Regions from separate parts of the Homo sapiens genome. Here region 2 is linked to region 1. Evidence: fine-mapped expression QTL. Tissue or cell type: CD4 T cells. Region 1 holds a variant in brackets; the other region holds the start of a gene. All regions are shown on one strand. Distances are from middle to middle.

Evidence for each region. PIP is the estimated chance that this variant, and not a neighbour inherited with it, causes the effect.
Region 2: it holds the start of MAP1LC3A, and the variant in region 1 is fine-mapped to the expression of MAP1LC3A in CD4 T cells (CEDAR, PIP 0.95).

Annotation. Positions count from the first base shown.
Region 1 is chr20:35,097,834-35,105,938 of GRCh38, reverse strand. No RefSeq gene overlaps it. Among named protein-coding and RNA genes, the nearest start is that of TRPC4AP, 9.1 kb to the right of the region's middle. RefSeq lists enhancers at 3,580-4,079, 4,080-4,581. The variant C/G (reference allele first, on the strand shown) is at 5,005.
Region 2 is chr20:34,555,401-34,563,505 of GRCh38, reverse strand. MAP1LC3A (microtubule associated protein 1 light chain 3 alpha) reads right to left here and starts at 4,788. Exons shown (of 4, transcript NM_032514.4): 1 at 4,598-4,788; 2 at 4,243-4,298; 3 at 4,053-4,159; 4 at 3,161-3,770. The coding sequence starts at 4,637. The coding sequence ends at 3,608. PIGU (phosphatidylinositol glycan anchor biosynthesis class U) reads left to right here. Exons shown (of 12, transcript NM_080476.5): 12 at 2,527-2,964. The coding sequence ends at 2,640. RefSeq lists silencers at 2,983-3,032, 4,607-4,656, 4,997-5,086.

The DNA.
Region 1 (8,105 bases):
TGACTGTTTTAATGCTACAAAGAACAAGAATAATAAGGTGAAAAACATGGGAAGAGTAAATGGAAATATTGGAGAAAATATCAACTCTAATCAACAGACTGACATCATTTGCATCTTGTTAAAAAGGGTAAATGCAAGATTTGCTTTATTTATGTATTTATTTATTTATTTTAATAGAGATGGGGGTCTCACTATGTTGACTAGGCTGGTCTCAAACCCTTAGCCTTGAGCAATCCTCCCATCTCAGCCTCCCAAAGTGCTGGGATTACAGGCATGAGCCACCATGCCCAGCCAGCTCACACCTGTAATCCCAGCACTTTGGGAGGCCAAGGCAGGCAGATCACCTGAGATCAGGAGTTTGAGACCAGCCTGCCCAACATGGCAAAACCCCATCTCTACTAAAAATACAAAAATTAGCCAGGTGTGGTGGCAGGCGCCTGTAATCCCAGCTACTCTGGAGGCTGAGGCAGAAGAATCACTTGAACCCGGGAAGCGGAGGTTGCAGTGAGCTGAGATCACAGTCTCTAGTCTGGGTGATAATTATGAAACTCTGTCTCTCTCTATATATATATATACATATATGTGTGTATTATTTTATGAAATGTGTAAAACCAACAAAATGACATGTACACCAATGCATTATAATGATGTTCTTGCAAATGAGAACTTAAAACCATCAAAACTTAAAAGATGCTTGGAAACATGACATGTTGAATTAGTCAGTCTCTCGAATATTTCCAAAGAAAGAAAAACATATATAATGTGATAGGCAAATTTTATGATTCATGTTGTGACTGTCAGTGAGAAAGCCTTATTATCATTGTATTGGGTTGCATATTATGTGCCAAAAGAAAAAAATTGCTCACATGGTTCCTGAAAAAAACATTTATTCTCTGGCATGTATTTTGGTGTGTATAGTTTTTATGGTGTAGCAAGCCATAAAAACATACCTTAGCAATAATAGAGTTTCTCCTTGAATCTATACTGTTGCGGAATGTTGGAAACAATGCTTATTATGCTGTTACAATCTCGTATAGATTTTGTAATCCAACCAGAGAAAGTCAAATTGAAAGTTGCACAACACTTAGCTTATATCTTACATGAGTGGTAAGAACATTTTAAGGAGGGTCTTCTTGTTTGGTTAATCTTCTCTCACAAAACTGGATTAAAAGCATTCAGAGAATTGACAATTGTAACTTTGGCCAATACAGATTAGTCCAGACAAATATAAAGACATTGTATGAGAGTAGCAAATATGAATGAAAATATAATACAGTTATTATAAAATTGTTAGAAGAATCTGAAAGCAATGCTATTTGGAATACTCTTTTATATGCTGTAAATCTTAGGAAAACAAAGGGATCCTGCTAAAATTCATATATATGTTGGGGGAAAAACAGTGATAATCAACTTCTTGAAAACAAATTTTCAGGGATTACAGCTGACCACATCATTTACTTTAGCATATTGAAATTGGCCAATCATATCAATGTTGGCCAATCTAACCAAGATTTTTTTTTTTACATCCTTAGAGAATTAAATTAGAAGTTGTTCCAACATACTGAGCCTGTCCAAGCATTCCAAATAACATTACTTCTATGGCAAGCAAGATTTCAAAATAGTATGTGCCACTGGGTCAGTGATTGTCAAAAGTGGTCCCTGGTGCAGAGGCAACAGCATTACCAAGGATCTTGTTGTATTTAAAACTCTTGGGCCCCATCCCTGACCACAGATGGGCCCCCAATCTGGTTTAACAAAGCCAACCCCTCCAGGTGATTCTAATGCAAGCTCAAGACTGAGAACAAGGGTACTAGATGTTCCCAACATTGCTGCAACAAATTGATGCAATTTTATTAATGAAAGCAGTTTGTATTAATCCAATCTCACGCTGCCAATAAAGACATACTCAAAACTGGGTAATTGATAAAGGAAAGAGGTTTAATTGACTCACAGTTCCGCATAGCTGGGGAAGCCTCAGGAAACTTATGATCATGGTGGAAGGGGAAGCAAACAAGGTCTTCTTCACCTGGCAGCAGCAAGAAGTGAAGCGCGAATGGGGGGAAAAGCCCCTTCTAAAATCATCAGATTTTGTGAGAACTAACTCATGATCAGAATAGCATGGGGGTAACTGCCCGCATGATTCAATTACCTCCCACCCGGTCCCTCCCACAACATGTGGGGATTATGGGAACTACAATTCAAAATGAGATTCGGGTGGGGACACAGGCAAACTGTATCACGGTTTGAACTGAATGAAATGAAATTAGAGATATTTTTGCACCTTATCTCCTATGTTGGTGTCAATGTTATGTTGCTTTCATGTCGGTTGGTGACCTTTTTTCCTGGCCTTTGGAAGAAATTATGTGATGTTGGCATTATTTCTTCCTTAAAAGTGTGGTAGATTTCAAAGGCATTAGGGATTGGAGTTTTCTTTGTGGGAACCTTTTAAATTAGAGATGAAATGTCTTTAATAGTTATAGGATGATTCCAATTTTCTATTATGTTTTGTGTCCATTTAGGTAAGACTTTTTTCTAGAAATATTTCTGTTCCACTTAAATTTTCAAATACATAGGCATAAAGTTATTCATCATGTCTTCTTATGATCTTTTGGTGCTGAAGAATCTGAAATGATATTCCCTTTTCAAATTTCTGACATTAATTTCTGGTTGGAATCTCTTCTTTTTATTCATGGAGTCTGTTCTGATTTGATCGATTGTTTTCTAGGATTACAGCACAACACTCAATCTGGGATTTCTTTTCTATCTGCACCTGCGGATCACAAGGTCAGGAGCTTGTGATCCTGACCAACATGGTGAAACCCTGTCTCTACCAAAAATACAAAAATTAGCTGGGCATGGCATGGTGGCACACGCCTGTAATCCCAGCTACTCGGGAAGCTGAGGCAGGAGAATCGCTTGAACCAGGGAGTTGGAGGTTGCAGCGAGCTGAGATCATGCCACTGCACTCCAGCCTGGCGACAGAGTGAGATTCTGTCTCAAAAAAAAAAAAGATATTAATTATCCACTTATTCATCAAGCTCTGCTCAGAGGGCTTTGGGTTGTATATAAGACAATGCTAATTTGTCACCTGTGAGGAGCTTCCAAAGAATATAGTACAGATTCAGAGGCAGTGGGTTTTAGATTTTGTTTTTCTTTTTGAAACATATTTTTGGGTTAGATGCAGTGGCTCACGCCTGCAATCCCAATGTTTTGAAAGGCAGAGGTGAGGGGATTGCTGGAGGCCAGGAGTTTGAGACAAGCCTGGGCAACATAGTGAGAACCTGTCTCTACAATAATATGTTTTTAAAAATGTTTGTGTGGGTTGGAGCTCTGATGGTAATTGCTTATGTGTCTGCCTTCCTCCACTAGACTTGAGCCCTAGAAGGCACAGGCTGCATTTGTCTTATTCACAGATGTATCCCCCACGCCTGGGGCAGAGCTTGTACATAGGAAGTTTTCAAGAAATATCTGGTGAATGAATGTAATTCAGTGACTACATGCCTTTATTTACAATAGTATGTATTCTAGTGTGCTGTGATAATTTGTTAGTTTATGAAATCTCTATTTTATGCATCTTTGTTAAGATGACATGTATCAAACACTTAGTACAATGTCCGGAACATACATGGTAGGTATTTTCTTTTTCTTTTTGAGACGGGGTCTCGTTCTGTTGCCCAGGCTGGACTGTGCAATCTCTGCTCACTGCAGCCTTGGCCCCCAGGGCTCAAGCAGTTCTCCCACCTCAGCCTCCCAACTAGCTGGGACCACAGGCATGCACCACCATGCCAGGCTAATTAAAAAATATATATATATTTGTAAAGATGAGGTCTCACTATGTTGCCCAGGCTTGTGTCCAACTCCTGGGCTCATGTGACCCTCCTGCCTTGGCCTCCCAAAATGCTGGGATTTCACGTGTGAGCCACCACATGGGGCCTAGGTCTTTTTTAAATGTTAATTTTCTTATTTTCTTCCCTTTGCATTTCTTTGCATCTAGCACAATCTCTAATACATAGTAGGCGTTCAGTGATTTAGAGATCACTGTAAACAATCCAAGAACCACTGGCAAAATGTGTGTGTGTGTGCATGCACGTGTGTCTGCCTGTGTGTCCGCACGCACACGTGTGTGTCTGCCTGTGTGTCTGCGCATGCACGTGTGTGTCTGCCTGTGTGTCGGATGCATGCATCATTTGGGGAAAGAAGTTTCAACTTTATGTCATAAGAGTCTTCAGTGTTGCTGAAGAATGGCTGTTGTAGATTAAGGAGTGACTAGCTTTGGGAATGAGGTAAGAATCTACATCTGTGGAGATTGGAACAAAAATTTAGAGAGACTATTTTCTGAACTCAGAACCGATCATAGTGTTGGACAAGTTTAAGTCCCACAGGGCCCATTTAAAATTAAGATTGTCCCAAAGATGACACAGGAATTAATTTGAGAGGACTACCAATGGTCAAATTTGGGACAATTTGAGCATCAAAAAGAATGAGAAATACACACACACAGAATTTTTTTTCTTTTTTTTTGAGACAGAGTTTTGTTCTTGTCCTTCCTTCCGGGTGTGCAGCAGGACCCTCTCTGGAATGGGGGTCTTATGACCTACAGTCAAACCAGGTAGGTTGGATAATTTCTTGATGGCCAGTTTATGCACAGAAAGGTGTGGTGGTTTAGGGGGAGGGAGTTAGAGTAATATTTTTAGGTTTGGTTTCACCGCTGGCAAGGGGAAGGAGGAAGGTTTCTGGTTTCTTTTTTTTTTTTTTTTTTTTTTTGAGATGGAGTTTTGCTCTAGTGCCCAGGCTGGAGTGCAGTGTCACAATCTTGGCTCACTGCAACCTCCGCCTCCCACATTCAAGCGATTCTCCTGCCTCAGTCTCCAGAGTATCTGGGATTACAGGCATGTACCACCACACCTGGCTAATTTTGTATTTTTAGTAGAGATGGGGTTTCACCATGTTGGCCAGGCTGGTCTCGAACTCCTAACCTCAGGTGATCCGCCTGCATCGACCTCC[C/G]AAAGTGCTGGGATTACAGGAGTGAGCCACTGCGCCCTGCCAGTTTCTGGTTTCTAAACCCTGCCTTGGGGAAGAGGGATTCTAGTTTCTATGACTAGCCTCAGGGGAGAATAAGAGGCCAGAGACAGAAGGGCAGGAGACGGTCAGAGAGAGCTGCTTCTGAAGCCTTTATCTTAGGGTATCATCTTCTTTTTTATTTTTTCAGAGACAGGGTCTCACACTGTCACCCAGGTTGGAGTGCAGTGGTGGGATCATAGCTCACTACAGACCCCAACTCCTGGGCTCAAGCAGTCCTCTCACCTCAGCCTCCCAAGTAGCTAGAACTACAAGTGTGTGCCACCAAGCCCAGCTCATTTTAAAATTTTTTGTAGAGACTCCTGGTTTCAAGCGATTCTTGTACCTCAGCTTTCCAAAGTGCTGGAATTCTAGGTGTGAGGCACTGCACCCGGCCCTGGACTATCATTTCCTGAGACGGTACACTTCCCAGCAGTAAAAAGGAATGAACCACTGACATGCAGATCAACATGGATGAATCTAGAAAACATCATCCTTAGTGAAAAAAGCTAAACACAAAAGACTATATATTAGATGGTTCCATTTATAGGAAGTTATGGAACAGTCAAAATTAATCTATGATGATAAAATTAGAACAGTGGAGAGGTACATTTTTCTCCTTTGGAGTTAGTAAGTAACAAGTGCATGAGAACTTTCTGGAGTAATGGAAATTTCTATATCCATTGGGAGTATTGGTTAAATTCAGGTGTTGGTTACACAAGTATATACATATGTCAAAATTCATCAGATTACATATTACCTAATATCTATGCATTTCATTTTATGTAAATGATACCCTAATAAAACCAAGGGAAAATAGAATAACCATAGTAATGGATTATAACACATAAAATAAAAAAAAGTTTATGAGTCCATAGTGATACCCCAGAAAAAGGGCGGGAGCTCCTTTTGGGGGGGAATATTACCTAATAAAAGAGGAAGCAATGGTAGAATTAGAAAGTTACAATTTTGCAACCACCAGCATGATAATCCAGGGAGGGATCATCAAGGGATGATAAAAACTACTGGGTTGGCCAGGTGTGGTGGCTCACACCTGTAATCCTAGCACTTTGGGAGGCCAAGGTGGGTGGATCACGAGGTCAGGAGATCGAGACCATCCTGGCTAACATGGTGAAACCCCGTCTCTACTAAAAATACAAAAAAAACCCAAAACAAAACAAAAAAAACTACTGGGTGGGGGCTGGGCGCGGTGGCTCACGCCTGTAATCCCAGTACTTTCGGAAGCCAAGGCGGGTGGATCACCTGAGGTTGGGAGTTCCAGACCAGCCTGGCCAAAATGGTGAAACCCCATCTCTACTAAAAAAAAAAAAAAAAAAAAAAGCAAAACTTGCAATGTGAAGTGGCTCGTGCCTGTAGTCCCAGCTACTCGGGAGGGAGGCTGAGGCAAGAGAAGAAGAACAGAAGGTTGCAGTGAGCCGAGATTGCGCCACTGCACTCCAGCCTGGGCAACAGAGCGAGACTTCATCTCAAAACAAACAAACACAAACATTACTGGGTGAAAGGTGGGTGGAGAACAAGACAGTCTCGTAGTCTTGAAGGCCACAGATTACTTATTAACCCCAAAATGTATGTTTCCAATGAAGACATATTAAGTTTGATCCAACAGATCAAACTTAGCATCATCAATAATGGGACACATTTACATTATTTCTTTCTGATATGAAGCAATGGGAAAGACACACCATCACCTGTTTAATATTCTAGCCATAAAAGCTTAATCCTAACCAAATCATGAGAAAACAATAAAGCAGATCCAGATGTCAGGGTATTCAGTACAACTGGCCCGGACCCCAAAACTGTCAATATCCCGAAAGGACAAAAGAGATGAGGGACTCTTCTAGATTAAAAGACAGTGACAAGACATAGCTTTCAAATGTATGCATGATCCTTTACTGAACTCTGGACTGGGGGGAAGAGACTGTAAGGGACATTTGGGGGGTAATTGCAGATATTTGAATATGGATTATAAGATAAATAATGGCCAGGCATGGTGGCTCATGCCTGTAATCCCAGCAGTTTGAGAGGCCAAGGTGGGCAGATCACTTGAGGTCAGGAGTTCGAGACCAGCCTGGCCAACATGGTGAAACCCCATCTCTACTAAAAATACAAAAGTCAGCTGGGTGTGGTGGTGGGTGCCTGTAATCTCAGCTACTCGTGAGGCTGAGGCAAGAGAATCGCTTGAACCTGGGAGGCAGAGGTTGTGGTAAGCCGAGATCACACCACTGTGTTCCAGCCTGGGCTACAAAGCAAGACTCCATGTCAAAAAAGAAAAAAAGCCTGGGCATGGTGGTTCATGCCTGTAATCCCAGCACTTTGGGAGGCCAAAGCAGGCGGATCACCTGAGGTCAGGAGTTTGAGACCAGCCTGACCAACATGGAGAAACCCCATCTCTACTGAAAATACAAAATTAGCCAGGTGTGGTGGCGCATGCCTGTAATCCCAGCTACTTGGGAGGCTGAGGTAGAACAATAGCTTGAACCCAGGAGGCAGAGGTTGTGGTGAGCTGAGATTGTGCCATTGCACTCCAGCCTGGGCAAAAAGAGTGAAACCCTGTCTTAAATAAATAAATTTAAAAAAAGATAAATTGTATCAATATTAAATTTCTTGGGTGTGATGGTATCATAGTTTTTAGGAGCATGTCCTTGATCTTAGGAGATACATTCTAAAATATGCAGGTGAAGTGTCATAATATCTACAATTTACTTTCAAATGGTTTAGCAAAAAATGGCTTAGCAGGATGGGTGCAGTGGCTCACATCTGTAATCCCAACACTTTGAGAGGCTGAGATGGGAGGATCCCTTGAGCCCAGGAGCCCAAGGCTACAGTGAGCTATGATCGTGCCACTGCACTCCAGCCTGGGCAACAGAGCGAGACCCTGTCTAAAAAAAAAAAAATGTTTAGCAAAACTAACACAAACCCTCTCTACGTATAAATGAAGTATAGAGAGAGATACATATATGGAAAGAGCTGTATATATACATATATGTATATATACATATATGTATGTGTATATATGTATATATACA
Region 2 (8,105 bases), 540 kb after region 1:
ATCTCCGCCTCCCAGGTTCAAACCATTCTCCTGCCTTCAGCCTCCCAAGTAGCTGGGATTACAGGCATGCGCCACCATGCCCGGCTAATTTTGTATTTTTAGTAGAGACGGGGTTTCTCCATGTTGGTCAGGCTGGTCTCGAACTCCCAACCTCAGGTGATCCGCCTGCTTCGGCCTCCCAAAGTGCTGGGATTACAGGCATGAGCCACCGCACCTCGCCGAAGTTTTATTTTTATCAATGGAATACATGTATGTAGTTTGCAAAGTTAAGGCTTATAGGGGAAAAGAATAGCTACCTAAAGTCTTACTGTTATTTCTGTTGGTACTTCTAAATAACATGCTTACTTTTCCATGTGTACGTTTTTCCGTTTTATATTAGGTTGGATCATATGAAATTGCCAGTATTCAACCATTTTTTTATCTGCAAAACTGGCAATTTCATATGGTCCAACCTAATAACCTAATCTTTTTCTTCCTGCTTCTTGTCCAGATGATTATTGTGTGACATGGAGTTGCTTCGTTTTGATTGTTGTGGATTGTGACTGCACCTGCCCCTCAGCTGACCTGGTTCAGGGATCAGCCTCTGAGCTCAGCCCCTGCTTTGGGCTCCTCCTGCCCAGATGGCATCTCGGGCCTGGGTGAGAAAGGGCTGCAGGGTATGAGGTCAGCCTTTGCTGTGATCACTGCCCCCCAGTGGGCCAGCCTGGAGCTGCCAGCTGGGCAGCTGGGGGCAGGGCCTCGGGGGCTGCCTGAGCTCTGTCTGCTTTGCTGACGCTGTGACCAATCTCGTGCTCATCAGTGATCTGGGCCCCAGGCAGACCACCTTTCTGGGTCCATGGCCATTAGTCCAGTGCTCCAGGTGTAGCCTTAGGCCAACCATTGAACCCTTTGAGTCTCAGTTTCCCCATCTGTTTAAGATGAGGATTGTTCAACCTTCCAGATGGGCTTCTGTGGTGATAGAATGGCAGGTACTTGTCCTGAGGCCATCAGAGCTGCTGGTGACAGGACACCTTCCTGAACTCCTCCAGGCGCCTCTGATCTCTCCTTAGCTGCTGTTGTGTTACCTTCAGGTCAGTGAGAAGCTGCCCAGGACAGGGTCTGGAGGTCTAGATCCCAGGCTTAGCTCAACCTGTCTTGCCCCAAGACCATAGCCAAGTGCTCTGTGCCTCAGTCTCCCCATCTGTGCCAGGTGGTTGGTGCCAATCCTCTGAGGCCTCCAGGTGCCTGAGAGCTGCGGTGTCTGTAGTGTGAGCCCCTGTCCCCTCATCCTTCTCTGAGGCTGGGCCCTGCCCAACCTGCTCCAGGGACCAGTGGTCTTGGGAAGCTTGGGCTGACTGGGATTGCAGACTCCGGGTCTGGTGTATAGGGCCCTTGGCAAATCCCTATTCCTTTCTGGGCCTCCTTGAAGAGACAGTGGGCTGAGCTTCTAGGCTCCCTTTGATTCTTCTGTGTGTGGCCCAGAATGGGACAGACAGACTGAGCTGGGCACAGAAATACCATAGTGACAGAACCATTCGAAGACCCTGCCCTGATGGAGGCCCCGGGCCAGGGGAGGAGGCACAGTCAGGCTGTCAGCTGAATGGAAAATTACACTTTCGATGAGTCTGTTATCGAGTAGAGATTAGTGGGGCCAAGAACTAATCTGGGGGGCAAGTGATCCTTCCTGAGCCCTGAAGAGTAAGCAGCTGTCAACTAGATGAACGGGGAGAGAACATTCCAGGCAGAAGAAACAGTAAAGATCCTGCCGTGGGGTGAGGTGGAGCCGGGAGAGGGCGGACAGGGACCCTAGCAAGGTCTCAGAGCACGAGGGAGTTCGAGCTTTGCCCTAAGGCTTGGGAAGCCTTTGGAGGATTTGAAGGCTGGAAGTAACACCATCAGATGTGGGTTTTGAAAAGCTCCCTCTGGCTGCCAGGGAGAATGGGGTGGGCACGGGTTTGAGAGCAGGGAGCCCAAGGACCAAGCTTTGCTGTTGTTTAGGAGATGAGATGACAGTGGCTCTGTCCAGAGTAGTGACTGTGGGGATGGATCCAAAGGGTGGATTTGAGTTTAGGGGGAATTGACAGGTCATGGTGGCTCGATGTATGAGAGAAGTGTCAGGGCAATTTTGTGGCCTGGGCACCTGGCTGGAAGATGGGGGCATGGATGCTGAGTGGGAGAAGTGTATTTGACAGAGGGAAGGTGAGGAGTTTGATGTGGACCTGGCTGGGATGGAAGTGGCTGTGGGAGGATGGGGCAGAGGCCTCTGGTTGCACAGGCACCAGGCTGGCATTCGAGGCCAGAGCCTGGGATGGAGGTGTAGACCATGGGTGGGGGCAGGGGGAGTCCAGGCAGCTTCTGAGAGGCCAGACCTTGCAGGGTCAATTATGGGCCCTGAGGTGGGGGCCCTGAGGAGGGCCTCTCCAGTGATTGTGATCCAGAGCCAGGCAGGGGCGTTCCTGTCTTCCAACAACACCTGCCAGCAGTTCAGGGATCCTGGGTTTAGGGGGAGGTACCCAGCAGCGCCTCACACCCTCTCTCTCCCCCCAGATCCTGCTCATCTCTGATTACTTCTATGCCTTCCTGCGGCGGGAGTACTACCTCACACATGGCCTCTACTTGACCGCCAAGGATGGCACAGAGGCCATGCTCGTGCTCAAGTAGGCCTGGCTGGCACAGGGCTGCATGGACCTCAGGGGGCTGTGGGGCCAGAAGCTGGGCCAAGCCCTCCAGCCAGAGTTGCCAGCAGGCGAGTGCTTGGGCAGAAGAGGTTCGAGTCCAGGGTCACAAGTCTCTGGTACCAAAAGGGACCCATGGCTGACTGACAGCAAGGCCTATGGGGAAGAACTGGGAGCTCCCCAACTTGGACCCCCACCTTGTGGCTCTGCACACCAAGGAGCCCCCTCCCAGACAGGAAGGAGAAGAGGCAGGTGAGCAGGGCTTGTTAGATTGTGGCTACTTAATAAATGTTTTTTGTTATGAAGTCTACCCTGAGACCACATCTGCATTGCACTCCTAGAGGGGGTGGCCCCTAATAATGTTCTGGAACACTACACACAGGTGTGGGTTTCCAGAGCGAGCACCGCGGCCACAGAACACAAGTCTGTGCGCCAGAGCCCGGGGATGGTGCGGGCAGCCCCACCAGCACCCTCCCCACTCCCAAGCAAGCGGCTGGAGGCACAGGGCCAGGCAGGCCTGAGCAATCTTTATTCTGCAGAGGGACAATGACCACAGATCCATACACCACGTGGAGACCGAGGGGCGGGGAGCCAGGGGCCAGTCTTTCAGGGGTGGGCAGGTCCAGGCGGTGGGCAGAGCCTCGGGTGGGTGAGGGGCAGATGGGCAGACAGGCAGGGGCCTAAAAAAAAGATGAACCACACAGCAGGGGTGCTGGGAGCTGCTCCCCACCCTCCCCCATCCCACCAGCCAGCACCCAGAGGGACAACCCTAACACGACCGGCCCAGGATCCACCCAGGGGCAGAGTAGGTGGGTTGGTGCCCTCTGACTAGGGGGGCACATGCCTGCCCAGCCCACCACGGTAGAGGCAGCTCAGTTCAGGAACCAGGAGCTCTCTGGGCAGGGCCTGACCGGGGCCGCCCGACTCCCAGGCCGAGCCCCCCTACTGCTGGCTCAGAAGCCGAAGGTTTCCTGGGAGGCGTAGACCATATAGAGGAAGCCGTCCTCGTCTTTCTCCTGCTCGTAGATGTCCGCGATGGGCGTGGACACACTCACCATGCTGTGCTGGTTCACCAGCAGGAAGAAGGCCTGCGTGGGGTTCAGCTGCAGGCGGCGCCTGCAGCCGGCGGGAGAGTATGCAGCTGTGAGGGGCTTGGCTGCGGGACGGACATAGCCCTGACCCCCAGAATGATTCCCAGCCTTTCACACCCATTCTCACCCCAGCTGTCACCTCTGACCCAACACCGACTGCAGCCCCGACCTTGACCTTTCCAGCCACCCCAGAACAGGGGCCCACCGCCCGGTCCCATCACCCCTGACCCCACTCCCACCCCTTCTCGGCGGGAACCCGGCTCCCCTCCCGACCCTAGCCACCTCCTGGCGGCGGCTGCCCACGCACCGGATGATCTTGACCAACTCGCTCATGTTGACATGGTCCGGGACCAAAAACTTGGTCTTGTCCAGGACGGGCAGCTGCTTCTCACCCTTGTAGCGCTCGATGATCACCTGGGAGCAGGGCGGGCGGGCAGGGGGTCGTGTCGGGAACGCGCGAGGCGGGGGCGGGGCAGGGCTGGGGGTGCGGGACTCACCGGGATTTTGCTGGGGTGCTGGTCGCGGATCTGCTGTACCTCCTTACAGCGGTCGGCTGCGGACAGCGGCCAGACCGTGAGGCCGGGTCGGGCCGGCCCAGGTCCGCCCCGCCTGTCCCGGAGGGGCGGCCCCCGGCCACGCCCCAGCTCCAGCCCCCACCCCCGGGGCCATCAGGCCCCACAGCCCCTGGCACCTATCGCGGTGGGGAAGCGGGCAGCCCCCGCCCAGGCCGGAGCTGGTCCCAGCCCGAGGGTCCAGCCAGAGCCTGACGTCACGGGGCTGACGTCACCTGCGGCAGTCGGGGTCGGCCGGCACCCCTGCCCCAGAGCTCGCAGCTCGCCTGCCGGGCCTCACCGAAGCTCCGCCGCTGCTTGAAAGGCCGGTCTGAGGGCATCGCGCGGGCCCGGCTGGGCGCGCAGGCCGGGGCTCTGGGGCGCGGGGATGTGTCTGCGGTTTGGGGGCTCCGGGGGCTCCGCGCCTCGCGCTCAAGGGCTCCGGGGCTCGCGCTGAGCACGGCGGCTGCGGCTGCGGGAGGTAACTCGCCCGGTGACGTCAGGTCACAACATTCCTTAAAGGGGAGGCCAGTGCGCCGCTCCCATTGGGCCGACGCACAACCCGCCCGCCCGGACCCGTGACGTCACGGCGCAGAGAGCCTGGGTCCGCGGACCGGGACGCGAGGGGCGGGGCTTCTGGGCGCGTCACAGTCCCGTGACGTCATGGGCAGCGCGGGAGCTTCTCCCGCAGCCCGAACTCAAGGTAAGGCCCGGAGGGCGGTGGGGCCGCCCTAGGCCGATGGAGCGGGCGGGCCAGGCTGCAGCCCCACGGCACCACTTCCCGCCCTCACCGAGTCTGTGTCAGGACTGACGCGGTTCTGGGCGCCGTGGGAAACAGCCGGAGCCAAAGGCCCGGCGCCTTCACGGGGCTTAGGGCGAGAGAAGGGAGAAGGTGCGGGAGGCACAGTCAGACACAGGATAGAACAGGATGCTAGAAATGAACGCCCAGGTTTGAAAAAGAATAATATAATTGAAAAGTAGAGCCATCGAAATTCAGGTCTCAGAGGATGAGGTGAGAAGGCAGAAAAGGACAACAGAAGAGAAATCGTGGACCTGGAGGCTGATCGGAAGCAGCTCACCAGAGAGACAGGTGATGGGGAATAAGGAAAAGGGCACAGATGGCAACGCCAGGAGAACTCGCGGGCCCGAGCAGAGCTCCAGAGGCGAACACTGAAAGACCTGCAGAGACAGTTCCTGAAAAAGAGCTGCCAGAAATGATGCTTAAAATCCAGAGCAGAATGCGCAGACTGAAGATCAACATTTTTTTGGGGGAGGGGGGAGGGGGACGAAGTCTCGTTCTGTCGCCAGGCTGGGGTGCAGTGGTGCGATCTCAGCTCACTGCAACCTCTGCCTCCCGGGTTCAAGCGATTCTCCTGCCTCAGTCAGCCTCCTCAGTAGCTGGGATTACAGGCGCCTGCCACCACCCCCAGCTAATTATTGTATTTTTAGTAGAGATGGAGTTTCACCATGTTGGCCAGGATGGTCTCGATCTCCTGACCTCGTGATCCACTCGCCTCGGCCTCCCAAAGTGCTGGGATTACAGGTGTGAGCCACCACGCCTGGCCGCCGAAATAATTTTTAAAGAATGTAGTTTAGTAACAAGGACATGGAACCCAAAAGGAAGAAATTAGATGGAAAAATGGTGAGCAAATTGGTAAACATGTGAATCTAAACAAGCATTTAATATGCAATATGAATAATAATGATTAATTTGTGGGCCACAGAAACAAGATGCATGAGACACAAGAACATGGAAGACTGAGAGGGCAATTTGAGAGGGGGTTAAAGAGACTGAGCATTGTCTGGCTTTGTAAAGTCAGGTGTGTATTTCAGATATTTAAGAGGATCACCAAAAGAATACAAACGGAACTATAACTGCCAATGCAGAGAAAAGGGTAGTGATGGGTATTAAAACTATAATGGAAGGCAGAAAGGGAGAAAAAGGAAGCAAAGTAAAAGGGATGGTAAATATATAGTACAAAACCAGAGGTAGAAAATGTGGTTTACATTCACCTCTTAAAACACAGATGACCAGATTGGCCAAGAAAAAATAAGATGCAGCTCTATGCTATTTACAAGAGGAAATTTAAAACCTAAGGGCACCAAAAAGTAAAACGATGGGAAAAGGTGTACTAGAGAAAAACTAACCAAAAGATGTACCTATAGAAAACTCAGACAAAATAGGCCTTCAGGCAGAAGACACTGGGGATAAGAGGATCAACATGAAATGATGCGAGGAGGAACTCTGTGAAGAGAGGAAAGTTCTGAACTTCTATGTTCCAGGGTTTTTGTTTTTAAGGCTGAAAATAGGCCAGGCGCAGTGGCTCATGCCAGTAATCCCAGCACTTTGGGAGGCCGAGGTGGGTGGATCACTAGAGGCTGGGAATTCAAGACCAGCCTGGCCAACATGGCAAAACTCTGTCTCTACTAAAAATACAAAGATTAGCTAGCTGGGCGTGGTGGTGCACGCCTGTCATCCCAACTACTCAGGTGGCTGAGGCACAAGAATTGCTTGAACCTGCTAGGCGGAGGTTGCAGTGAGCTGAGATTGCGCCACTGCCCTCCAGCCTGGGCAACAGAGTGAGACTCTGTCTCGAAAAAAAAAAAAAAGAGGCTGAAAATATATTAAGAACACAAGGAGAAATTGCCAGGTCCTCCATCATAGGGAGACATAAGACCTCTTTGAGTAACTAATAAACCAAACAACCAAAAAAAAAAGGACATAGAGGATGTTAATACAGTTACTAATCAAGATCAATGAACCCCAATAGAAAACCTGACAGTTAGTTTTTTAACTTTTAAAATTTAAATTTCAGACCTGTGTGAGACCAACACATTATTTTCAATCACACAAGGAACATTTACAAAAATGACCCAACTACTAGGGTGCACGACAAATCTCAACAGATATCAAATCAGTTTCAACCATATTCTTTGGCCACAGACAAAAGCCGCGTAAGCTCCAGCTGTGTGGAAATTTAAACCTATTCTAAATATGAAGTCATATATAAATAAAAATTATTTAGTTCAAACAAAAAATGAGGATACATATGCTAAGAAAACTTGGTGGCCGGGCGCAGTGGCTCACGCCTGTAATCCCAGCACTTTGGGAGGCCAAGGCAGGCGGATCACGAGGTCAGGAGATCGAGACCATCCTGGCTAACATGGTGAAACCCCGTCTCTACTAAAAATACAAAAAATTAGCTGGGCGTGGTGGCGGGCGCCTGTAGTTCCAGCTACTCGGGAGGCTGAGGCAGGAGAATGGCTCGAACCTGGGAGGCGGAGCTTGCAGTAAATGGAGATCGCGCCACTGCACTCCAGCCTGGGCGACAGAGCGAGACTCCATCAAAAAAAAAAAAAAAAGAAAGAAAACTTGGGAGGGGGGCCATGGCAGGCCAGGTGTGGTGGTTCATACCTGTAATCCCAGCACTTTGGGGGGCCCAGACTGGAGAATTGCTTGAGCCCAAGAGTTCAAGGCTGCAGTGAGCTGTGATTGCAGCTCTGCATTCCAGCCTCGGTGACAAAATAAGATCCATTTCTTTAAAAAAAAAAAAAATCAGATTTATAGCCTTATTACATAGATGTATTACTTAGATAATAAATACAGAAAATCCATGAGCAGAGTTTCAAAGAAATTTAAGAAGGAGTAATAGTGTAATCCTAGCACTTTGGGAGGCCCAGGTTGGAAAATCATTTGAGCCCAGAAGTTTGAGACCAGCCTGGGCCACATAGTGAGACCCCGTCTCTACAAAAATGAGAAAATTAGGCCAGGCACAGTGGCTCACGCCTGTAATCCCAACACTTTGGGA